Regions from separate parts of the Homo sapiens genome. Here regions 1, 2, 3, 4 and 6 are each linked to region 5. Evidence: fine-mapped expression QTL. A gene starts in region 5. Each other region holds a variant in brackets. All regions are shown on one strand. Distances are from middle to middle.

Region 1 (4,085 bases), 42 kb after region 5:
GGAAGGTCACACAGTCCGGCCTGTTTATGCTGCAGCCAGGGGGCTGAAAGAGAGAGAGTCACGGGCTTCCCTGTGTGACTGAGGCTGCGTGGAGGCAGTGAGTGAACAGCCCGGGCTGGCAGGACAGGTTGACCCGCACGGAGGCAGAGGCGGCGAGGGGGCTGTGGGAAGCACCTGAGGGCGGGAAGAGGGGCTTGCACTCCCACCTGTGAGTGTGGTGGTGAGTCAGGAAACAGCTCCGGCTTCCTGCTTGGCAGCAAAGCTGGTCCTTCCCCTCCTGGGGTCCTTCCCCTCCGCCAGCCCTCGAGGCCCGCGCTAGGGCGCTCTGCTCAGCGCTCAGCCCTCACTCCGGCACCGCGGCTTCGAACAGCCATTATGCGCAGCTGAGACCGGTGGAGGCAGGGAAGCTGGGGACGGAGTGAGCGAGAGGGGGAATGTGGGGAGTGACCCAGATGTCAGGATGACCTACGGGAGTCCACAGGCAAATGCAAGCCCATCCGATGCTGTGGCGCTGGACCATGGGGAGGTCAGCCGAAGGCAACAGCAGGAGGTGAGGGCAGGGGGCAGATGGGTCTAAAAGGAGCTTCAGAAGGAATGTAAGCCATCTCTAGTTGGGGACTGGGCATTGTGGTATCCCCCTGTAGTCTCAGCTGCTCAGGAGGCTGAGGTGGGCAGATGAGTTGAGCCCAGGAGTTCTGCACAATAGCGTGCTGTGTTGATGAGATGTCTACACTAAGTTCAGCATCAGTGTGGTGACCTCCGGGGGGTGAGGGACCCCCAGGTTGCCTAAGGAGGGCTGAACCGGCCCAGGTCAGAAACAGAGCAGGTCAAAAGTGTCCTGCTGATCAGTAGAGGGATCATGCCTGTGAATAGCCACTGCGCTCCAGCCTGGGCAATACAGCATGACCTCATCTCCAAAAACAAATTTAAAAAAATGACCGGGCGCGGTGGCTCACGCCTGTCATCCCAGCACTTTGGGAGGCCGAGGCGGATGGATCACCTGAAGTCAGGAGTTCGAGACCAGCCTGGCCAACATGGCGAAACTCCATCTCTACTCAAAATACAAAAAAAAAATTAGCTGGGCATCGTGGCGTAGTGGCACATGCCTGTAATCCCAGCTACTCGGGAGGCTGAGGCAGGAGAATCGCTTGAACCAGGGAGGTGGAGCTTGAAGTGAGCTGAGATTGTGCTGCTGCACTGTAGCCTTGGCGACAGAGTGAGGCTCTGTCTCAAAAAATAAATAAGTAAATGAATGAAAAATAAACCTCTAGTTGAAGGGCGCAGATTGGATCTTAATAAGGCACATGTAAAAGCCGTGGGATCCAAACTGAAGTGTGTATTGGCCGGAGCCACAGGAGACTCCAGAGAGGCAGCGTGGCCTGGGGCCTACACACAGAGGCTTGGCCTGGCTTGAATCCCCAATCTGACCATTACTAGCTTGGGGGAGTCCCTTGACTTTTCTAATCTTTAAGTTTTTGTTTTGTTTTGTTTTGTTTTGTTTTTTGAGGCAGAGTTTCACTCTTGTTGCCCAGACTGGAGTGCAATGGCGCGATCTCAACTCACTGCCACCTCTGCCTCCTGGGTTCAAGCGATTCTCCTGCCTCAGCCTGCCGAGTAGCTGGGATTACAGGTGCACGCCACCACGCCTGGCTAATTTTTTGTATTTTTAGTAGAGATGGGGTTTCACCGTATTGGCCAGGCTGGTCTC[G/A]AACTCCTGACCTCAGGTGATCCCCTGCCTCGGCCTCCCAAAGTGCTGGGATTACAGGTGTGAGCCACCGCGCCCGGCCTCATGGTGTTTTTTGACCAATAAAAGTTTTTAAATAGGTGGTCAAAAGTGTGTTTCAGCTTTTAGGGAGTACCTAGCATTTGTGTCAAATGAAACCTCTCTGAAGAGAACATGAAGGATGACCTTGACCAGTGAAACCCAAAGCATAAACATCCTGACAGCAGTCAATGTGTGGTCACAACAGAATAACAAGGACAGGAGAAGAAAGGCCATCTCTGTGGACACTAATTATTTATTTAAAGGGGAATACTAATTTGTGTTTTATCCTGTAGTCGGCTTCCTTTTCTTCCTCCCAGAGCTGTGGTTCCTGCCAGAGGACACTTCCCTCGTTGGCTATGCCCAGGAGCAGCTTGACCAGAAGATTTTCCCTGTTATGAAGTCATAACACATATCATAATAGTAACTATTGTTAATACCTACCCTATTTATGATCTTTAAAACCCTCGGCCGGGCGCAGTGGCTCACGCCTGTAATCCCAGCACTTTGGGAGGCTGAGGCGGGTGGATCACCTGAGGTCAGGAGTTCGAGACCAGCCTGGCCAACATGGTGAAACCCTGTCTCTACTAAAAATACAAAAATTAGCCGGGTGTGGTGGCGGGTGCCTGTAATCCCAGCTACTTGGGAGGCTGAGGCAGGAGAATCGCATGAACCCGGGAGGTGGAGGTTGCGGTGAGCCGAGATTGCACCATTGCACTCCAGCCTGGGCAATAAGAGCGAAACTCCATCTCAAAAAAAAAAAAAAAAACTGAAAAAACAAAACACCATGAATTAAGAAGTTAAATGACAAACTAGGAAAATTTATTCATAGTATATAGAACTGTGAATGTCTTCATTTTATTTTATTTTTATTAATTTTTGAGACAAGAGTCTCGCTCTGTCGCCCAGGCTGGAGTGCAGTGGCACAATCTCGGCTCATTGCAACCTCTGCCTCTGGGGTTCAAGCGATTTTTCTGCCTCAGCTTCCCAAGTAGCTAGGATTACAGGTGCCTGCCACCATGTCCGGCTAATTTTTGTATTTTTAGTAAAGACGAGGTTTCACTATGTTGGCCAGGCTGGTCTCAAACCCCTGACCTCAGGTGATCCGCTTGCCTCGGCCTCTGAAAGTGCTGGGATTACAGGTGTGAGCCACCGTGCCCGGCCTGTGAATGAATGTCTTTAATACATAAAGAGCCTTCACAAAATCAATATACAAAGATTGGCCGGGTGCAGTGGCTCATGCCTGTAATCATTGCAGTTTGGGAAGCCAAGGTGGAAGGATCGCTGGAATCCAGGAGTTCAAGACCAGCCTGGGCAATAGAGTGAGACCCTGTCTCTATAAAAATAATTAAAACAAAGCTGAAGGAGACCTTGCTATGCAGCCCCCTGCCGCTTGTGCACCCTTGTCGACCCACACGCACCTTCAGGAGGGCGGCGCACACCTGGGGTAGTCACAGTGCAGGACTCTGGCTCAATAGCGCCTTTGCATTGGTTTGGACCTTCGGGAGGGCGGTACACGTCTGGGGTAGTCTCAGTGCAGGACTCTGGCTCAATAGTGCCTTTGCATTGGTTGGGACCTTCGGGAAGGCAGTGCATGCCTGGGGTAGTCTCGGTGCAGAAGGACTCTGGCTCAGTAGCACCTTTGCATCAGTTTGGACCTTCGGGAGGGCGGTGCAGAAGGACTCTGGCTCAATAGTGGCTTTGCATCGGTTTGGACCTTCCGGAGGGTGGTACACGCCTGGGGTAGTCTCAGTGCAGGACTCTGGCTCAATAGCACCTTTGCATTGGTTTGGACCTTCGGGAGGGCAGTACATGTCTGGGGTAGTCTCAATGCAGGACTCTGGCTCAGTAGCGCCTTTGCATTGGTTTGGACCTTCGGGAGGGCGGTGCATGCCTGGGGTAGTCTCAGTGCACGACTCTGGCTCAGTAGCGCCTTTGCATCGTTTTGGACCTTTGGGAGGGCGGTGCATGCCTGGGGTAGTCTCGGTGCAGAAGGGCTCTGGCTCAGTAGCGCCTTTGCATCAGTTTGGCCTTGGCTCCCAGCACTGGTTGTTTCCAGCGGGGTTGTCGGCTGTGTGAAGCAGGCCGTGTGCCTCTCTGGCTGTGGGGCTCTGTTCGGTGGTGTAGCAGGCCTGAGTGCTTATTAGCCATCTCGGGATCCAGGGAACATTTGGGTTTTCCCAGCTACACCTGGAAACTTGGCGGGCATATGGGAATGAGATTCTACCACTCTGGAAGATTCATGCCCACAGGTTTCATTGCAGTTTGCTGATGGTCCGCAAGCCTGAAATTAGCGTGTGGAACAGACCCCTTTGGTAGCAGT
Region 2 (4,085 bases), 41 kb before region 5:
GGAACTCAATAGTGGTAACTGCACAAGTCTGTAAATATACTAATTTTGAATCATTAAAACTAAAATTCATTAACAATCATTGAATTATACACATGAAAACAAGCGAACTTTATGGATTGCGATTTTTTTTTTTTTTTTTTTGAGGCAGAGTTTCGCTCTTGTTGCCCAGGCTGGAGTGCAATGGCGCGATCTCAGCTCACTGCAACCTCTGCCTCCAGATGCAAGCGATTCTTACATCTCAGCCTCCCAAGTAGCTGGGATTACAGGCATGCACCACCATGCCCCGCCAATTTTTGTATTTTTAGTAGAGACAGAGTTTCACCATGTTGCTTCGTCTGGTCTCGAACTCCTGACCTCAGGTGATCCGCCCGCCTCGACTTCCCAATGTGCTGGGATTACAGGCATGAGCCAGCATGGTGGCCATGGAGTGCAACTTTTATCTCAATAATGCTGTTTTGAAAATAGTACAGAGAGTTCTTGTGTACCCTTCACGTAGCTTGAGAACTTTTTATTTTATTTTATTTTTGAGCGAGAGTCTCACTCGGTCACCCAAGCTGGAGTGCAATAGCATGATCTCAGCTCACTACAACCTCCACCTCCGGGTGCAAGCGATTCTTATGCCTCAGCCTCCCAAGTAACTAGGATTACAGGCATGTGCCACCATGCCCCACTAATTTTTGTATTTTAGTAGAGACAGGTTTTCACCATGTTGGCTAGGCTGGTCTCGAATTCCTGACCTCAAATGATCCACCTGCCTCAGCCTCCCAAAGTGCTGGGATTACAGGCGTGAGCCACCACACCTGCCCCCTGCCCACCCCCCAGAACTTGTTTTTTTTTTTTTTTTTGGAGACGGAGTCTTGCTCTGTCACCCAGGCTGGAGTGCAGTGGCCCGATCTTGGCTTACTGCAACCTCTGCCTACCGGGTTCACACCATTCTCCTGCCTCAGCCTCCCGAGTAGCTGGGACTACAGGCGCCTGCCACCATGCCCGGCTAATTTTTTTGTATTTTTAGTAGAGATGGGGTTTCACCGTGTTAGCCAGGATGGTCTCGATCTCCTGACCTCGTGATCCACCCTCCTCAGCCTCCCAAAGTGCTGGGATTACAGGCGTGAACCACCGCGCCCGGCCACCCCCCAGAACTTCTTATACAACCATAGAGCGACAATCAAACCAGGAAATTGACATTGGTACAATACTCTTTTTTTCTTTTTTGAGACGGAGTCTTGCTCTTTTGCCCAGGCTGGAGTGCAGTGACTATCTCAGCTCACTACAACCTCTACCTCCTGGGTTCAAGCGATTCTCCTTCCTTAGCCTCTCAAGTAGCTCGAAGCACAGGTGCGTGCCACCATGCCCGGCTAATTTTTTTGTATTTTTAGTAGAGACAGGGTTTCACCGTGTTAGCCAGGATGGTCTCGATCTCCTGACCTTGTGATCCGCCAGCCTCGGCCTCCCAAAGTGCTGGGATTACAGGCGTGAACCACCGCGCCCGGCCACAATACTCTTAATGAAACTACAGACCATAGTAGGATTTCACCAGGGCTTAGAGCAATGTCTGGCACGTAGTGAACCTTACACAGGTGAAAGGACTTCACTACCATGACGATGATGATGATGAAGATGATAATGATGATGTTGGACTTTCTAGCACAGCCAGATTGATATGGTGCCTATTTTCAGAGCATGCCATGTTAGTTTCTATATCTAAACCTTTTTTGGCCTGGCACGGTGGCTCACGCCTGAAATCCCAGCAATTTGCGAGGCTGAGGTAGGCAGATTACTTGAGCTCAGTAGTTCGAGACCAGCCTGACAAACATGGAGAAACGCCATCTCTACGAAAAATACAAAATTAGCCGGGTGTGGTGGCACATGCCTGTAACCCCAGCTACTCAGGAGGCTGAGGCAGGAGAATCGCTTGAATCCTGGAGGCAGAGGTTGCAGTGAGCCGAGATTGTGACACTGCACTCCAGCCTGGCAACAGAGTGAGACTCTGCCTCAAAAAACAAAAAACAAACCAAAACCCCCACTTTTTTTCTATGAAACCAGCCTCGCTCTGTCACCCAGGCTGGAGTGCAGTGGTGCCATCATGATCCTCCCACCTCAGCCTCCCGAGTAGCTGGGACTACAGGCATGTACCACTATGCCTGGTTAATATTTTTATTATTTGTAGAGATGAGGGTCTCAGTATGTTGCCCAGGCTAGTCTTAAACTCATGAGTTTAACCAATCCTCTCGCCGCTGCCTCCCAACGTGCTAGGATTACAGGTATGAGTCACGGTGCCCGGCTTCTTTCTTAACTCTTTCTAGTAGTTCTACCACTTGGGATTACCTTTTTCCTTCCTCTCCATTTACCTTTATGAAATCCTCACATCCATCCATCTCCATCAAATCTTTAACAATTCTCCTCTGTCTTTTTTGACTGTAGGGACCTTTAGAACACCCAGCATTAAAAAA[T/C]AGATTTCAGGCCGGGCATGGGGGCTCACGCCTGTAATCCCAGCACTTTGGGAGGGCCGAGGCAGGAGGATTTCGTAAGGTCAGGAGTTTGAGACCAGCCTGGCCAACATAGTGAAACCCTGTCTCTACTAAAAATCCAAAACTTAGCCGGCAGTAGTGGCGCGTGCCTGTAATCCAGCTACTCTGGAGACTGAGGCAGGAGAATTGCTTGATCCTGGGAGGTGGAGGTTGTGATGAATTGAGATCGCGCCATTGCACTCCAGTCTGGGCAACAGAGTGAGACCCTGTCTCAAAAAAACAAAAGGAATATTTTTTAAATTTTTACCGTTCTGAAAGCACATTGACATCCTTTGAATTTTTTTCTAATTATTTCACTTTGATTTGTAAATTCTCAACTAGATTCAGGGGCTGTATGGGTTACAATTCCTCTGCACCCTCCACAGAATTTCAGACTTTTTTTTTTCCCCCGAGACAGAGTCTCGCTCTGTCACCCAGGCTGGAGTGCAGTGGCGCGATCTTGGCTCACTGCAACCTCCCCCTCCCGGGTCAAGCGATTCTCCTGCCTCAGCCTCCCGAGTAGCTGGGACTACAGGCGCCCGCCACCACGCCCGGCTAATGTTTGTATTTTTAGTAGAGACGGGGTTTCACCATGTTGGCCAGGCTGGCCTCGAACTTCTGGCTTTAAGTGATCCGCCTGCCTCGGCCTCCCAAAGTGCTGCGATTCCAGGCGTGAGCCACCGCGCCCGGCCAAGGTCTTAATTCTTGCCTGCCTTTCTGCTCCCCTGTGAACTCTACTGGTTGTCTTTTTTCCTGCTTTATCCCTCGTCCTCGGTAGACAGTGATGGTTAAATGAATGAATGCATGAACAAATGACTGTCCAGGAGCTAGTACTGCATTGCATGTACACATTGATGACAACAGACATCGTACAATGCGCAATCTTGGCAAATTTATTCAAACCCTTTAGACTTCGCTCTCTCACAGTGCGACGCCGGGAGCCCATCACACGCTGAGGTCTGTCAGAGGCCCCAGAAACAGCCTCGGAAATGGAGGAGGCGGGGCTTCACCCCGACCACACCCCCTTGCGTTCAAAGCCTTTCCGCCTATGGGCCCGCCTCCTCGGCGCAGTGTGCAACTCTAATTGGTCGTCTCACTAATCCATCTGAGCACCTCGGCGCCGACTGGATCAACTGCTGAACTCGGGTTGCGCACTTCCCGGCGCTGGGAACGCGGAGCGGACGCAGTCTGGCCGCCATTGCGCTGCGGGGAAAGCGGCCTCTTGTGTGAGGGCCTGTGGGGTGCGTGGCAGGCGTTTAAGGCCGGGCTGCGGGAGGCGTGGTCGGGTCGGGCCGAGTGACCGAAGGGGTTAGGCCGGGCGGGGCTGGATGCACTGTGTGGCGGGACTGCAGGCCGGGGTCCCCGGACGCCTTTCTGCTGCGCTTCTTGTGGGCCCGGGCCTGTGGTTAGTGAATTTTTCTATCCCGCCGCTCCCCAGATTCTCCGGATATGGCCGGAGTGTTTCCTTATCGAGGGCCGGGTAACCCGGTGCCTGGCCCTCTAGCCCCGCTACCGGACTACATGTCGGAGGAGAAGCTGCAGGAGAAAGGTGAGGCGAGAGTGTGGAGCGGCGCGCGG
Region 3 (4,085 bases), 21 kb before region 5:
GTTGGGAGCTCAGCTGGGTTTTGGGAAGACAACTCTGAGCATTTGTTTTTCCCAGAATCACCCAGCTACTCAGTGACAGGGATGCAGAAGGTGGATAGATTACACTGGTGATTAAGGAATAGAGCTCTGTTAGAAGACAGTTGTAGAGTGGTAAGGCATTGAATGCAAGGGAATCAAGAGTGCGGGACCCAGCCGGCCGCGGTGGCTCATACCTGTAATCCCAGCACTTTGGGAGGCCGAGGCGGGTGGATCACGAGTTCAGGAGATTGAGACCATCCTGGCTAACGCGGTGAAACCCCGTCTCTACTAAAAATACAAAAAATTAGCTGGATGTCGTGGCGGGCGCCTGTGGTCCCAGCTACTCAGGGGGGCTGATGCAGGAGAATGGCAGGAACCTGGGAGGCAGAGCTTGCAGTGAACCGAGATCGCGACACTGCACTCCAGCCTGGGTGACAGAGCAAGACTCTGTCTCAAAAAAAAAAAAAAAAAAAAAAAAAGAATGCTAGACCCCATTGAGATACTGGAAGAGGGGAGAGGAGAGAGAGCAGAAGAGGCCATTGGCCTGGGAAAGAATTGTAGGCATCAGGGAACTGGATATCAGAAGTTAGAGGCTGAGGAGTGGAGGAGTGTCTGAGAGGGTAAGGATGCAGTTGACTCTAGTGGTTAGAAGCACAGGCTCTGGAGTCAGATGGGGTTCACATCATATCTTTGTCATATTACTAGTTGGGATCTTGGGAATATTGCCCATGCTGGGCCTCAATTCCCTCATCTGTAAAATAGGGATACTGATAGGACCTAGGTCAGACGGCTTTTGTGAGAATTAAATGAAACGGGGTATTTAGTAAGCCATATTACTTGGTAAATTGCATGATAAAGCTGGGCATGGTGGCTTATGCCTGCAATCCCAGCACTTTTGGAAGCCGAGGTGGGAGGACTGCTTGAGCCCAGGAATTTGAGACCAGCTTAGGCAACATAGCAAGATCCTGTTTATATTTAAAAATAAATAAATAGGCCGGGTGCGGTGGCTCACGCCTGTAATCCCAGCACTTTGGGAGGCCGAGGTAGGTGGATCACGAGGTCAGGAGTTCAGGACCAGCCTGGCCAATATGGTGAAACCCCATCTCTACTAAAAATACAAAAATTAGCCAGGCGTGGTGGCACATGTCTGTAGTCCCAGCTACTCTGGAGACTGAAGCAGGAGAACCACTTGAGCCCCGGAGGTGGAGGTTGCGGTGAGCTGAGATTGCGCCACTGCACTCCAGCCTGGGTGACAAAGTGAGACTCCATCTCAAAAAAAAAAAAAAAAAAAAAAAGCTATGTCATGGGCAAGTTCTATAACTTGTTTTTTATGAAGACATAAGAGGTATAACATATATAAATTTCTTACCATGGTACCTAGTACACGTAGACCTGAGTAAATATTATTTTCCTTCTTGCCTCCCCTTATCCCCCAGGAATTTCTGCTATTTAGTAAAGGAACACTGGGCTCCTCAGGAATTTATGCCTCCTCCCCTTCAGGGATAGAGCACTGTTAACTACAACAGAAATACTGTGTTCCATTACACACATCAGCAATTCCAAGTGCAGTCCAAGAATTTACTAAACCTAATGGGAATCATCCACTTGCCTTTACCCCAGTATCTAGCCTATCCTGGCCCCTGGCCCTCCTTTTTTTTTTTGAGAGGGAGTCTTGCTCTATTGCCCAGGCTGGAGTGCAGTGGCACAATTTCAGCTCACTGCGACCCCCGCCTCCCGGGTTTAAGTAATTCTCCTGCCTCAGCCTCCTGAGTAGCTGGGATTACAGGTGCCTGCCACCATGCCCGGCTAATTTTTGTATTTTTAGTAGAGACAGGGTTTCACCATGTTGGTCAGGCTGGTCTCAAACTCCTGACCTCATGA[T/C]CCAACCGCCTCGGCCTCCCAAAGTGCTGGGATTACAGGCATGAGCCACCGCACCCGGCCCCCCTCCTTTCTGTAGATCTGCCTGGTTGTCTCATCCTGTGGACATGCGAGATGCTCAGTCTAGCTTTCATAGTAGGGTTTGAGCTGTTATCTCACCTGCAGTCTTTTCTCCTTGCTTGTCTGAATACCATTTGCTCAAGGCAGATTACTATAGTAACTCCAGCCAACGCACTCTTTCACCTCAATAATTGTTCAGAAGACATTTTTTGCCTTAAAGTCTTGACTATATCATTTGGTATTTTGTGGTTTGCTATCTTGTTTTATTCAGCTTTTCAAAGAAACAGCTTTGGTTTCATTAATTTTTATCGTTTTTCTCTTTTTTGTTGCATTGATTTTTTTTTTTTTTGAGATGGGGTCTCTATGACCCAGGTTGGTGTGCAGTGTCGCAGTCTCAGCTCACTGTAACCTCTGCCTCCCAGGCTCAGGAGACCCTCCCACCTTAGCCTCCCAAGTAGCTGGGACCACAGGCACATGCCACCATGCCTGGCTGATTTTTCTTTGTATTTTGGATACAGACAGTTTCGCCATGTTGCCCAGGCTGGTCTTGAATTCCTGAGCTCAGGTAATCCACCCCCCTGGGCTCCCAAAGTGCTGGGATTGTAGGTGTGAGCCACCACGCCTGGCCTTGTTGCATTGATTTCTTCTCTTATCATTGCCATCCCTTTGCTAGTTTGTTAAGGTAAAAGGTTAGATTATCAATTTTGGACCTTTCTCTTTTTTTTTTTTTGAGACAGAGTCTCGCCCTGTCACTCAGGTTGGAGTGCAGTGGCGCGATCTCTGCTCACTGCAAGCTCCGTCTCCCGGGTTCACGCCATTCTCCTGCTTCAGCTCCCAAGTAGCTGGGACTACAGGTGCCCACCACCACACCCGGCTAATATTTTTTTTTGTATTTTTACTACGACGCGGTTTCACCGTGTTTGCGAGGATGGTCTCGATCTCCTGACCACCACCTGATCAGCTTGCCTCGGCCTCCCAAAGTGTTGGGATTATAGGTGTGAGCCACCGCACCTGGCCTGGACCTTTCTCTTTTTCTTTTTTTTTTTTTTTGAGATGGAGTCTCACTCTCTCACCCAGGCTGGAGTGCAGTGGCGCGATCTCAGCTCACTGCAACCTCCGCCCTCTGAGTTCAAGCGATTCTCCTGCCTCAGTCTCCCGAGTAGCTAGGATTACAGATGCCTGCCACCGCACCCGGCTAATTTTTTTGTGTGTTTTTAGTAGAGACAGGGTTTCACCATCTTGGCCAGGCTGGTCTTGAACTCTTGACCTCGTGATCCACCTGCCTCGTCCTCCCAAAGTGCTGGGATTACAGGCGTGAGCCACCGTGCCCAGCTGACCTTTCTCGTTTTTTTTTGTTTGAGACGGAGTCTTGCTCTGTCGCCCAGGCTGGAGTGCAGTGGCGCAATCTTGGCTCACTGCAACTTCCGCCTCCTGGGTTTGTGTCATTCTCCTGCCTCAGCCTCCTGAGTAGCTGGGACTATAGTCGCCTGCCACCATGCTCAGCTAATTTTTTGTATTTGTAGTAGAGACGGGTTTCACCGTGTTAGCTGGGATGGTCTTGATCTCCTGACCTCGTGATCCACCCACCTCAGCCTCCCAAAGTGCTGGGATTACAGGGGTGAGCCACCGTGCCTGGCCAACCTTTCTCTTTTTCTAATAGTATTATTCACTTCTGTAAATTTTCCTCTCAGCATTGCTTTAGCTGCATTCCTCCCTTTTTTTTTTTTTTTTTTTTTGAGGCAGAGTCTCACATTTTCGCCCGGGCTAGAGTGCAGTGGCACGATCTCGGCTCACTGCAACCTCCGCCTACCCTGTTCAAGCGATTCTCCTGCCTCAGCCTCCCAAGTAGCTGGGATTACAGGTGCCCGCCACCACACCCAGCTAATTTTTTTTTGTATTTTTAGTAGAGACAGGTTTTTACCATGTTGGCCAGGCTGGTCTTGAACTCGTGACCTCGTGATTCACCCGCCTTGGCTTCCCAAAGTGCTGGGCTTACAGATATGAGCCATCGTGCCCGGCCCCATTCCTCACATTTTAATATGTTGTGTTTTCATTTTTATTTAGTTAAAAGTATATTCTAATTTCCCTTATGAGTTCATATTTCACCTTAGGTTGTTTCAAATTATGCT
Region 4 (4,085 bases), 890 kb before region 5:
AATGACATTCTTTTTTTTTTATCAAGTTTTTTCAGTAAACTTATTTTTTTAGTAAACAGTTTTATATTTACAGAAAAATGGCAAAGATGGTAAGTACAAAAAGTTCCATATCCTCTGCACTCAGTTTCCCTATTAACATCTTACATTTGGATAACTGCTTTTCTGATTAATAATCATGGAATAGCTGGCTTTAGTCACTGGAGTAGATACCAATATGGAGGCTGGAAGGAACTAAGAACTATGTTTATCATCATTTTTACCACCACCTCTACCATGAAGTGGTGATATGTTATTCATATAATTATTCCTATTTTATTTGAATTATTTATTTCATTTGATTCTCAATATATGCCTGTGAAGTAGGCCAAGGAAGTTATCCCCACCTTACAGCTGAAAAAAACTGAGGACCAGAAAGATCACACAATTACTAATAATCATGGCTGATATATTTTTGTCTATTTGATTGTTTTTGTTTGTTGTTTTGTTTTGAGACAGGGTCTCATTCAGTTGCCCAGACTGGAGCATAGCGGCACAATCTTGGATCACTGCAGCCTCAACCTCCTGGACTCAAGTGATCCTCTTGCCTCAGCCTCCTGAGTAGCTGGGACTACAGGTGTGCACCACCACGTCCTGCTAATTTAAATTTTTTTTTTGTAGAAGCAGGGTCTCCCTATGTTGCCCAGGCTGGTCCCAAACTCCTGGACTCAAGCAATCCTCCTGCCTCAGCCTCCCAAAGTACTGGCATTACAGGTGTGAGTCACTGCGCCTGGCCGACATGGCTGATGTTTATTAAACATTTCCAATAAGGCAAGTCTTATTGATAATACACCAATAATATGTTAACAATTTATATGTATTATCTCATTTAAACCTCAAACTAGCATAGAAGTTTTTATATAAATACAAATTTAAAAGGGGCCGGTCGTGGTGGCTCACGCCTATAATCCCAGCAATTTGGGAGGCCGAGGCGGGCGGATCACCTGAGGTCAGCAGTTAAAGACCAGCCTGACCAACATGGACAAACCCCATCTCTACTAAAAATACAAAATTAGTCAGGCGTGGTGGCGTGTGCCTGTAATCCCAGCTACTCAGGAGGCTGAGGCAGGAGAATCACTTGAACCCGCGAGGCAGAAGTTGCGGTGAGCCAAGATTGAGCCCCTGCACTCCAGCCTGGGCAACAAGAGTGAAACTCCGTCTCAAAAACAACAAAAACAAAAACAAAACAAAAAATTAAAAGGAAATAAAAATAATTTTAAAAAACCTCAAACTAATCTTAAATGCTACTATTACATCTTCATTTTACAGACAAGCAAACTGAGGCCCAGAAAGACTAAGAAACTTACCCTTGGACATACGACTTGAAATAAAGGAAACAAATCAAATCTGAGAAGTCTGACTTCGAGCCCTCCATGCACAGCCATTAAACTATACGGTAACTATGGTGGCTGAATTCCCTTTCCCAGAATCCCCTTTCCCAGAGTTCCCTTTCCTGTTCATTTCCAGTTAGCATGGGCCACAAATGATTCTTTTTTTTTTTTTTCGCCCCTGAACCCAATTGAAAACTACACAAGAGAGTCCTGTGAGAGACTGGAGGGCTGAATTGAAGCAGCAGCCGTTCCGCAGCTGACAGTGCTGGTTATCTGATGCCTCAACTCATTGGCAAGAGGCAGCAGCTACACCTGTAATTGCTTCACCTTCTCCTGAATCTTCCTTCAGCTTCTCTTACTCCTGGACCAGGTGTCAGTGTTTATATCTCTGGGCAAAGAGCCCTGGTTTCTCCTGGATGCCCACACCACCAACATTAGAAGCAACAAGAACTGACGCGGTCTCCAGCCTGCCCTCATGGGCTCCAGTTTATGCTAGTGAGTTCCAGCTCATTCTCCACTTTACCAACTGCCTGCCCCGGGGACCTCAAACTCCAGCATCAGATATGAAGACAACAACGGTGTAGAAACTGCTTAACCAGCAGCCTTCACTTTGCATGGCCATGCAGGACCACAGATAGGACCGTGCAAGCTGAAACCATGCAGAGCAATCTTTTTTTTTTTTTTTTTTTTTTTTTGGATACAGAGTCTCGCTCTGTTGCCCATGCTGGAGTGCAGTGGCACAATCTCGGCTCACTGCAACCTCTGCCTCCTGGGTTCAAGTGATTCTTCTGCCTCAGCCTTCCAAGTAGCTGGGATTACAGGAGTGCGCTACCACGCCCAGTTAATTTTTGTATTTTTAGTAGAGATGGGGTTTCACTATATTGGCCAGGCTGATCTTGAA[C/T]TCCTGACCTTGTGATCCATCTACCTCAGCCTCTCAAAGTGCTACGATTACACCACGCCCGGCCTTTTTTTTTGTTTTTGTTTTTGTTTTTTGAGACGGAGTCCCACTCTGTCACCCAGGCTGGAATGCAGTGGCGCCATCTCGGCTCACTTTAACCTCCACCTCCCAGGTTCAAGCGATTCTCCTGCCTCTGCCTCCTGATTAGTGGGACTACAGGTTGCCGCCCCCACGCCCGGCTAATTTTTTGTATTTTTAGTAGAGACGGGGTTTCACCGTGTTAGCCAGGATGGTCTCCATCTCCTGACCGCCTGCCTCGGCCTCCCAAAGTGCTGAGATTACAGGCATAAGCCACCACGCCCGGCCGCAAAGCAATCTTAATAATCAATGAGAAAATGTATGATTGCTCTGTGACCTTTAAATATTTTGGTCAAAACATTAAAAACTCTCTTACTGTCAGTTGTAAATATATAGGAATTTTTTCTTTGATTAAAAAAAATAGAGATAGGGGTTTCACCATGTTGTCCAGCCTGGTCTCGAACTCCTGAGCTCAAGTGATCTGCCCACCTCGGCCTCCCAGAGTGCTGGGATTACAGGCGTGAGCATGCCTGGCTGGAAAAAAATTTTTAAGTGCAGCTGATATTTATTTAGTACCTCTTTTCATTCATGATAAAGGTTATTTAAACCTTTTTTCTTTCTCTTGGCCGGGCACGGTGGCTTACGCCTGTAATCCCAGCAATTTGGGAGGCTGAGGTGGGTGGATCGCTTGAGATCAGGAGTTTGAGACCAGCCTGGCCAACATAGTGAAACCCCGTCTCTACTAAAAAAATACAAAAGTTAGCCAGGTGTGGTGGTACACACCTGTAATCCCAACTATTTGGGAAGCTGAGGCAGGAGAATTGCTTGAACCCAGGAGGCAGAGGTTGCAGTGAGCAGAGATTGTGCCACTGCACTCTAGCCTGAGTGACAGAATGAGACTCCGTCTCAAAAAAAAAAAACAAACAAAAAAAAAAACCTTTTGTCTTTTTCTTAACCAGCTATGCCAGGGGGTTGGCAATTACTCTTTTCAAAATACGAGATGCAGTTGTTTTCAGATATATCCACAAATCCTTTTCTTTTTTTTGAGACAGAGTCTCGCTCTGTCGCCCAGGCTGGAGTGCAGTGAGCCACCGCTTCTTATAATATACACCTTAAATATAAGGATGCAGAAAGGCACATCATTCACTCAAAAACAGAAATATTAATAATAATAATTTAAAAATCGGCAAGGCCGGGTGCGGTGGCTCACGCCTGTAATCCCAGCGCTTTGGGAGGCCGAGGCGGGCGGATCGCGGGGTCAGGAGATCGAGACCATCCTGGCTAACACGGTAAAACCCCATCTCTACTAAAAATACAAAAAATTAGCCGGGCGTGGTGGTGGGAGCCTGTAGTCCCAACTCCGGAGGCTGAGGCAGGAGAATGGCATGAACCCGGGAGGCGGAACTTGCAGTGAGCCAAGATCACGCCACTGCACTCCAGCCTGGGCGACAGAGGGAGACAAATGAAGGTATACAAATGGCCAAGAAACACATGAAAAGATGCTCAACATCACTAATCGTTAAGGAAATGTAAATCAAAACCTCATTCCCATTAGGATGGCCACTACAGGAAAAAAAAAAAAAAACACACACAGAAAATTAAGTGTTGGAGAGAATGTGGAAACATTGGAACTCTCGTGTACTCTTGGTGGGAATGTAAGCGGTTAAAAGTAGCAGGGCAGTTTGTTTGTTTGTTTTGAGATGGAGTCTCTATCTGTCGCCCAGGCTGGAGTGAAGTGGTAC
Region 5 (4,085 bases):
TTACGGGGGTGAAACTGTAGCCGCGGCTGTGTCAGGGCCTGCTGTGTGTCAAGCTATAAAATAAACCCTTGGCAGGGCGCGGTGGCTCACGCCTGTAATCCCAGCACTTTGAGAGGCTAAGGTGGGTAGATCACCTGAGGTCAGGAGTTCGAGACCAGCGTGGCCAACATGGTGAAACTCCGTCTCTACTAAAAATACAAAAATTAGCCGGGCATGGTGGCATGTGCCTATAATCCCAGCTACTCAGGAGGCTGCGGCAGGAGAATCGCTTGAACTTGGGAGGCGGAGGTTGCAGTGAGCTGAGATCGCACCACTGCACTCCAGCCTGGGCGACAGAGTGAGACCCTGTCTCAAAAAAAAAAAAATTAAAAATTAAAGGCTCGACATCCTGCATCTCCCCAGGGTTGCCTTCTCTCCAGCCCCGGGGGCCCTGCAGTCCCTCCATCCCCCCTGCTGGATTCCTGTTGTCCCTCAGGGCCTTGATCAATGGCCCTCACTTCTCCTCTCTCCTCTGTCTCAGTGAGGATGAGGCTGGCCCATGGATCCTGCTCTCCGATGACAAGGGAGACCATCCCCCACCCCCGGAGTCCAAAATACAGAGTTTGTATGTTGGGGAAAGGGGAAAGGCAAGAGTGTGGGGAGGGAGGAAGGGCCCTGGCTGGTCCTTCTCAGGATCCCCTTTCCCGCTTCTCTGCCCGTCACCCTGCTGTGCTTGGCTCTAAGCACACCGTCCCCTCCTGCTTCTCTGGCCCTGGCCCCCATCACCTTCACACTCCCTCAGGCTGCCCTTTCTTCCCCCTCTCCCCTTTTCTCACCATCCCCTGCCCTCACCCATATCCTTGACCTCTCTGGCTTCCTGGCTCAAAGTGCCTCTGGCTGTCTCTCTCCAGCTTTGGCCTATGGTATCGGGGTAAAGCTGAATCCTCTGAGGATGAGACCAGCAGCCCTGCACCCAGCAAGCTAGGGGGAGAAGAGGAGGCCCAACCACAGTCTCCAGCTCCTGATCCGCCCTGTTCTGCCCTCCACGAACACCTTTGTCTGGGGGCCTCAGCCGCCCCAGAGGCCTGACTTAGGGGTCTGGCTGTGGAAGGATGTGTGGCCTCAAATGAGGACAGGGCTCCCGCCTTCACAGCCCTCGCCAGGGGTCTGCCCCAATCCTGGCCTGCATCAGGGCAGGACGGGGTCTCAGCCCGCCTCCCTCTCTACGTCTCTGTACCGAGCCTCTGGGGCCAGATATAAGAGTGCCTCTCTGAGTCTCAGTTTCCCCATCCATGAAATGAGAGCTGACTGCCTAGCTCCCAGGGCTTTGTGCAGACGGCCTGAGCTCATGTAATAAAGAACTGCCCGTAATACACAGAAACTGTTCCTCGCCTGTCTGTCCATGTCTGTGCCACCTCCCAACCCTGCCAGGAGCAGAGGCAGGCTGAGGGGTCCTCGCTGGTCTCCTTGCTCAGTCACTGGGTGGGGTGGCTTCTTGCAGCTCAGGCCTTGCTTTGGGAGTGTGGCCTGATGGAAAGCCGTGGCTCCCAGCCTCAGTCCACCCCCTTCCCTGGCCCCGGCACCCAGGGACCTGCAACTTCATTCTTCTGGCCCTTCCAGGCCCAGGCCAGTCAGCCCTGCCATTGCCTTTCTTTCCCTTTCTTTTTTTGAGTGTCAGTCTTTCCAGCCACCCCCTCCCTCTCAGGGAGGTGCCTCGTGGCAGCCCGCCCCTCCGGCCTGGTTTCCTCAGGAAAAGCCCTGAGAGGAAGCAGGGAGGGGGTTGGGAGCTGTGGGGGCCAGACGAACCCGAGCGCTCCCACCGAGCTGCCTGCCATGGGGCTGGGGCTGCTGCTCCCGCTGCTGCTGCTCTGGACTCGGGGGACTCAGGGGTCCGAGCTGGACCCCAAAGGGCAGCACGTCTGTGTGGCCAGCAGGTGGGTCTCGTGGGAGTCTGATGCGTGTGGCCAGCAGGTGGGTCTCGTGGGAGTCTGATGCGGGTGGCTGAACCGGTGTTGAGGCCGTTAGGGGAAGGAGGAGACTAGGAAGGGGGCTTAGGCTGAAAGGAAGGGACTGCTGATGGCGGTCTGGCAGGTAGTGGCCAGCCAGGGCAGATGGTGGAAGGGTCAGGGAAGGAGAGGGGAGGGGCTGGGGACCCTAGCTGTAAAGATCCATTAGGCCTCCCCAGGGGGCTAAGGCAGCCTCCCCCACTGCAGCCAGAGACAGTGATCCACCTTCCTCAGGGCCAGGCTGCACCCCCCACCATGTCCGGCTGACCCCTTTTTGCCCCACAGCCCCTCTGCTGAGCTGCAGTGCTGCGCAGGCTGGAGGCAGAAGGATCAAGAATGCACCATCCGTGAGTAGCCAGGACAGACCCTCAGCCAAGGAGAAGGGAGGCCGTAGCCCAGTGACAACCCTTCCTTCCTACCCCATGGGGCCTGCCCCTCCTGATACCAGGAGTCAGGGTTTCTCCTGTGACGCACCCCCAGGCCTGAAGGGGCACCTCTTGAGGAGGCATGGCCCCTGGAGCCAGTGAGAGGGCAGGGGTGTCCCCTGGTCCTGCTCCCGTCTTTCCAACCTGGGTGGGGTGTCTTTCAGCCATCTGTGAGGGGCCGGACGCCTGCCAGAAAGACGAGGTGTGTGTGAAGCCGGGCCTCTGTCGATGCAAGCCTGGATTCTTTGGGGCCCACTGCAGCTCCCGTGAGTCTCAAGGGCCAGATGAAGTTGCTGGGCAGAGCTGGGTACGGGGGCAGTGGTGTGGGAGCAGGCGAGGCAGGTAGCCATGCAGCCTCAGGACAGCAGGGCCAGAATCCCCCCCAGCTTCACTGAGGAATTGCGGTCCAGAGACAGGAAGTGACACACACTCCCGGGAGATGACCTGAGTCACCGGGTTTTTACCCACATCCACAAAGCACTGCCCACCTGAGCATCTTCCTCTTCCACTTCTCAGAAAACCTGTGATTCCCCTTCATTGTAAAATGAGTGTATTACTTGCCTTTCCCACATATACCTTATACATGGGCAGTGGATGGAAGGGGGCCCCTGGCTGGGCTCTCTGCCCTCTCTGGCAGAAAGAGAGGGAAGGGAAAGGGGTTGGGAAGCAGGAGAGCCAGAGGGTGGGCATCAGGAATCAAGGAATCACTAGGGGAAAGGTGGCTTCTCCCGACACCCTGGCGGGCAGTATCCAGGCCTGAGATCAGGAGAAAGCCAGCTCTCCTCCAGCCCAGCAGAGATCCATCTCGGCAGGGAGGAGCAGGCATGGAGGAAGGCCCACCAACCTCGGTGCCACGCTCTGGGCAAGTCCCCTGCCCACTCAGGATCTCTGAGTGTGTTCTGGAATGTGAAGTGGCAGGCTGAGCCTCCCACTAATGGCTAAGGGTTTTCTGTAGGTCAGAGCGGAGCAGGAAGTGAGTGTTGCCCAGGACAGGCTGCCGGATGTTCTGAGGGTCTGTCCCCGGCTCTTGGAGGATGGGCCCAGCGCCCCTTTTCCTTGAGGAAGGGGACGCAGGGTAAGGGTCTGCGCGCGGCCCTGAGCCCGCTGACCCCTCCCGTCCCCACCCCCGCAGGCTGCCCGGGCCAGTACTGGGGCCCCGACTGCCGTGAGAGCTGCCCCTGCCACCCGCACGGCCAGTGCGAGCCAGCCACGGGCGCGTGCCAGTGCCAGGCCGACCGCTGGGGAGCCCGCTGCGAGTTCCCGTGCGCCTGCGGCCCCCACGGGCGCTGCGACCCCGCGACCGGCGTGTGCCACTGCGAACCCGGCTGGTGGTCGTCCACGTGCCGCCGCCCGTGCCAGTGCAACACCGCGGCGGCGCGCTGCGAGCAGGCCACGGGCGCCTGCGTGTGCAAGCCGGGCTGGTGGGGGCGCCGCTGCAGCTTCCGCTGCAACTGCCACGGCTCCCCGTGCGAGCAGGACTCCGGCCGCTGCGCCTGCCGGCCGGGCTGGTGGGGTCCCGAATGCCAGCAGCAGTGCGAGTGTGTGCGGGGCCGCTGCAGCGCCGCCTCCGGCGAGTGCACCTGCCCGCCCGGCTTCCGCGGAGCGCGCTGCGAGCTGCCCTGCCCGGCAGGCAGCCACGGGGTGCAGTGCGCACACAGGTGAGCGGGCGGGGCGG
Region 6 (4,085 bases), 55 kb after region 5:
CGTCTCCTCCGTCATCCTGGTCTCCCGCTGCTCCCCTGCTCCCCAACCCCCAGCCTGCTGTTATTGTACCGTTACTCCCCGCCAGCCAAAGCACTGCTCTTGGCCAAGTGTTTCAGCTGTTTCCCTCCTAGGCAGGATTTTGAGCCTGTGGAAGTCACACAGGGTCAGGACGAAGCAAACACCTCACAGTCCATCAGCCCAAGTTCCCCAGACCCTGTGGGTCTGCCAGGGCCCCGTAGGGGCTTCTCCCACCTCTGACCCTCACACTAAGTAAAAGCCCCTTTCCTCGGTGGTGTGTGTGGGAATGCTGTTGGCGAGGAGAGGGGGACACGGTGTGGGCTGGCCACCTGGGCATTGAAGTGGTGGGAGCTGGGACTCTGGGGCCAGCCATCCTATGGACTTGCAGAGATTCTCATGCCCCTGGACTGGGGAGCATCCCGAAAGTTCTTCCTCCTCCTTTTTTTGGGGGGGAACAGGGTCTTGCTCTGTCGCCCAGGTTGGAGTGCAGCAGCACGATCTCGGCTCACTGCAACCTCCACCTCCCAGGTTCAAGTGATTCTCCTGCCTCAGCCTCCCAAGGAGCTAGGATTACAGGTGCCCGCCACCATGCCCGGCTAATTTTTGTATTTTTAGTAGAGATGGGGTTTCACCATGTTGGTCAGGCTGGCCTGGAACTCCTGACCTCATGATCCGCCCACTTTGGCCTCCCAAAGTGCTGGGATTACAGGCGTGAGCCACCATGCCTGGCTTCCTTGAGCATTTCTTTGGCCTCTGCCATGTGAGCTCTCAGAGGCACTGGGGAAGCATCAGTGGACGGGGCTGGCCGGTTCCCGCCTTCAGGGAGCTCCGCTAATACCAGACAAGCCGACGGACCAGGAGCACCGTCCCCTCTGCTGGGCCGATCACTATGAGCCTGCAAGACGTGCCGTGGTCATGGCGGGGCGGTCAGGAAGGCCTCCGAGTCGGGGGGCTAATCACACGCCAGGCCCAGATGACCAGCAGGGCAGGCACGGTGGGAGGACTGGAAGGCGGGTGCCTGATGCCCCAACGCCCAGGCTGGCAGGGCTGTGCCTCTTTGCGCGGCTCAGCACAGGGACAGCAGGGGTGGCCAGACGCCCCTGCCTGCTGCGGCTCTGGCCTCCCCGGGCTAACTCTGCCCCCTCCCCCCCCCACCCCGTCCCCGCGGTGCCTGTCAGCTCATCTATGATGCTGGTGTCTCCTTCATCGTCGTCCTCGTGGTCTGGGCCGGCTGCTCCGGGCTGGTTTTCCTCAACTGCTTCTTTAACTGGCCCCTTGAGCCCTTCCCGGGGCCGGAGGACATGGACTACTCGTAAGTAGAGGTGCCCCCGTCCCGCCTGCCCCCAGCCCCCGCCCCCCAGCCGGGGTCCCGGGCAGCACCCACAGACACTCTCCCGGGGCCCCAGGGTGAAGATCAAGTTCAGCTGGCTGGGCTTTGACCACAAGATCACAGGGAAGCAGTTCTACAAGCAGGTGACCACGGTGGGCCGGCGCCTGAGTGTGGGCAGCTCCATGAGGAGTGCCAAGGAGCAGGTGGCGCTGCAGGAGGGCCACAAGCTGTGCCTGTCCACCGTCGACCTGGAGGTGAAGTGCCAGCCGGATGCCGCAGGTACCCGCCTGAGACCGCAGCCGGGCGACGGGCAGGGAGTGCTCTGTGGGTATCGGCTCACCCCATTCCCACCTCACCCCAAAAGGGGAGGCGGCCCCGCCCGCCCTGTTCTGCAGAGGCGCTCAGGAAGGCCTGGGGGAGGGAAAGGGATTTGCCTGATTTCACCCAAGAGGTGACCCCACCGCAGCGCCAACCCCGTTACCCTCACCAGGCCCGTCCCGAGGGCCCCCTCCTGGCCTCCAGCGTGGAGGGATCTGCGTGTCCCCCCGGTGGTGGGGACAGTGTGCCCCGGCCCTGAGCCCCGCACCCTCTCCCTGCAGTGGCCCCCTCCTTCATGCACAGCGTGTTCAGCCCCATCCTGCTGCTCAGCCTGGTCACCATGTGCGTCACGCAGCTGCGGCTCATCTTCTACATGGGGGCTATGAACAACATCCTCAAGTTCCTGGTCAGCGGCGACCAGAAGACAGGTAGGTGCCCCGGGCAGCCTCGGTCGCTGTCACTCCCCGGCCTGAGCCCAGCCCACTGGCCACCGGCCAGAATGTGTTAAGCTGAGCCGGGCCAGCCGGGCCATGGAAAGGCCGCATCCCAGG[A/C]GCTGTCTGCCCGTCAGAGCTATTGCATCACTGCCAGCCCCAACTGTTTCTTCGTGTCCCCATCAGGGTTTCCTGGTCCAGGAGGGAGGGAAGGACCAAAATAGCCTCCTGGGTGTGGGGTGTGGGGTGTGTGTTTTCCAGTGCCTGAGGGGGAGGGTTGCCGTGTGTGTCTGTAAATGAAAACAGAACAGAACGCTCCACCTGAGCATGGCTGAAAGACAGCAGGTCAAGCCCAAAGTCCTCCCAGAAAGTGGCACGGTGGGTGCGTGGACACCCTGGGCATCGAGGTCAGGACGGGGCTGGAGACGCTGGGGCAACTGGCCCACACTGGGATCTGCATCCCTCACCGAGAAACAGGGCAGGGCAGAGACTTCCTCGGAGCTTGCGAACAGTTGAGGCTTGTCAGCTCCAACAAACACAGCTGATAACCCACAGTCCACTTTTCCAAACAGGGCAGGTCTTCAGCTGATTAGAGGTTTTGATTCTACAGAGAAAGTCAGGACTTCCCCGGGGCCTGAGCTGAGTCAGCCTTAGTCATCCCCAGGCGGGACAAACACTCCAAATCCTTTTTATTGGCAGCCTCCCTGGTGTGCCACTTTTTCCGATGGTTTCCTTGTTTTTATCAAGGTGAAGATACCCTAGGACTTGTGAAGAATCAGTTATCAGGTTTTTAGGGGATGAGAAATCCAGCTTTATCAAAAGGAAAAGATAGCAAAGGGAACCAGATAACAGCCAGTTCTACTGTGAAAATGGTAGTCTAGGCCAGGCACGGTGGCTCACGCCTGTAATCCTAGCCCTTTTGGAGGCTGAGGCAGGTGGATCATGAGGTCAGGAGTTCAAGACCAGCCTGGCCAAGATTGTGAAACCCCCATCTCTACTAAAAATACAAAAAATTAGCCAGGCGTGGTGGTGGGCCCCTGTAATCCCTGCTACTTGGAAGGCTGAAGCAGAGAATTGCTTGAACCCAGGAGGTGGAGGTTGCAGTGAGCCGAGATTGCGCCACTGCACTCCAGCCTGGGCGACAGAGTGCGACTCCATCTCAAAAGAAAAAAAAATATCTGTGGAACACACTTTGGGGAACCCTAATCTATCATGTCTCTTTCTTTCTTGTTTTTTTGAGGCAGGGTCTCTTTCTGCGTTGCTTAGGCTGGAGTGCAGTGATGTGAACGCTGCAGCCTTGACCTCTTAGGGCTCCCCAGGTGCGCGCCACCACACCCAGCTAATTTTTAAATTCTTTGCAGAGATAGGGTCTTGCTGTGTTGCCCAGGTTGGTGTCGAACTCCTGGGCTCAAGGGATCCTCCCCTCTTGGCCTCCCAAAGTGCTGGGATTACAGGCGTAAACCTCCACACCCAGCCTGATAAACATTCAGCCCTGGAGTGGCGGAAACCCCAAAGTGTGCAGAGAGAGCTGGTCCCTGGCCCTCGAAAGGCTCATCTCCCTGCTGCTGAGTCAGCGTCTTTTACTCAAGCTGTCTGAGAAATCTTTTGCTGCCCAGGAGGAATGTTTCCAACTGTTTCGTATGTTCAAAAAGTCAATTTCAAGAAGTAGAGGAAGCCAGGCCAGGAAGGTTGGTCTGTGGCAGACGAGGCACTGGTTTTCCCCCTCCTCCTTCTGTGACCCGTTACACCCAACACCCATAGCCCTAGCTCCGGCCGAGAGGCAGCTGCAGGGTCCGGGTCACTTTCCGCACACTCGTGAGCTTTGCGGCTCCGCAGGAGGGGGTGTGCCGTGCTGCTGAGGAACGGCTCAAAGCACCAGAGCCATCGCCTCCGCGTACGGCCCCGCGACCACCCGCGGCAGAGGCTCCCGGGTGCTGGTTCCGAATGGAGACTCCAGGCCTTGCCGCTGACCGGTGACTCTGCTGCCT

Alleles and levels. Positions count from the first base shown, and alleles are read on the strand shown. Sizes are in standard deviations (SD) of each study's normalised expression. Not every link is listed here.
For the expression in cerebellum of the gene that starts at base 1,778 in region 5, allele A in region 6 goes with a lower level than allele C (small effect, 0.37 SD a copy in GTEx).

The links.
Region 1: its variant is fine-mapped to the expression of SCARF1 in whole blood (TOPMed, PIP above 0.99).
Region 2: its variant is fine-mapped to the expression of SCARF1 in whole blood (TOPMed, PIP above 0.99).
Region 3: its variant is fine-mapped to the expression of SCARF1 in whole blood (TOPMed, PIP 0.93).
Region 4: its variant is fine-mapped to the expression of SCARF1 in skeletal muscle (GTEx, PIP 0.93).
Region 6: its variant is fine-mapped to the expression of SCARF1 in cerebellum (GTEx, PIP above 0.99). The same link has a PIP of 0.9 or more in cerebellar hemisphere.

What each region holds. Positions count from the first base shown.
Region 1 is chr17:1,601,205-1,605,289 of GRCh38, reverse strand. All of the region lies in intron 5 of SLC43A2 (solute carrier family 43 member 2), which reads left to right. It also overlaps the pseudogene RN7SL105P. Among named protein-coding and RNA genes, the nearest start is that of SLC43A2, 26 kb to the left of the region's middle. The variant G/A (reference allele first, on the strand shown) is at 1,709.
Region 2 is chr17:1,684,443-1,688,527 of GRCh38, reverse strand. PRPF8 (pre-mRNA processing factor 8) reads left to right here and starts at 3,661. Exons shown (of 43, transcript NM_006445.4): 1 at 3,661-3,748; 2 at 3,946-4,056. The coding sequence starts at 3,957. The variant T/C (reference allele first, on the strand shown) is at 2,451.
Region 3 is chr17:1,664,767-1,668,851 of GRCh38, reverse strand. The region is part of intron 24 of PRPF8 (pre-mRNA processing factor 8); the gene reads left to right. Among named protein-coding and RNA genes, the nearest start is that of RILP, 17 kb to the right of the region's middle. The variant T/C (reference allele first, on the strand shown) is at 1,900.
Region 4 is chr17:2,533,577-2,537,661 of GRCh38, reverse strand. No RefSeq gene overlaps it. Among named protein-coding and RNA genes, the nearest start is that of METTL16, 24 kb to the right of the region's middle. The variant C/T (reference allele first, on the strand shown) is at 2,269.
Region 5 is chr17:1,643,425-1,647,509 of GRCh38, reverse strand. It overlaps SCARF1 (scavenger receptor class F member 1), which reads left to right and starts at 1,778. Exons shown (of 11, transcript NM_003693.4): 1 at 1,778-1,913; 2 at 2,271-2,332; 3 at 2,575-2,676; 4 at 3,543-4,068. The coding sequence starts at 1,813. It overlaps RILP (Rab interacting lysosomal protein), which reads left to right. Exons shown (of 8, transcript NM_031430.3): 7 at 521-604; 8 at 891-1,360. The coding sequence ends at 1,068.
Region 6 is chr17:1,588,811-1,592,895 of GRCh38, reverse strand. It overlaps SLC43A2 (solute carrier family 43 member 2), which reads left to right. Exons shown (of 14, transcript NM_152346.3): 7 at 1,197-1,330; 8 at 1,425-1,627; 9 at 1,948-2,094. Among named protein-coding and RNA genes, the nearest start is that of PITPNA, 28 kb to the right of the region's middle. RefSeq lists a silencer at 869-1,034 and enhancers at 1,802-2,347, 2,348-2,893. The variant A/C (reference allele first, on the strand shown) is at 2,218.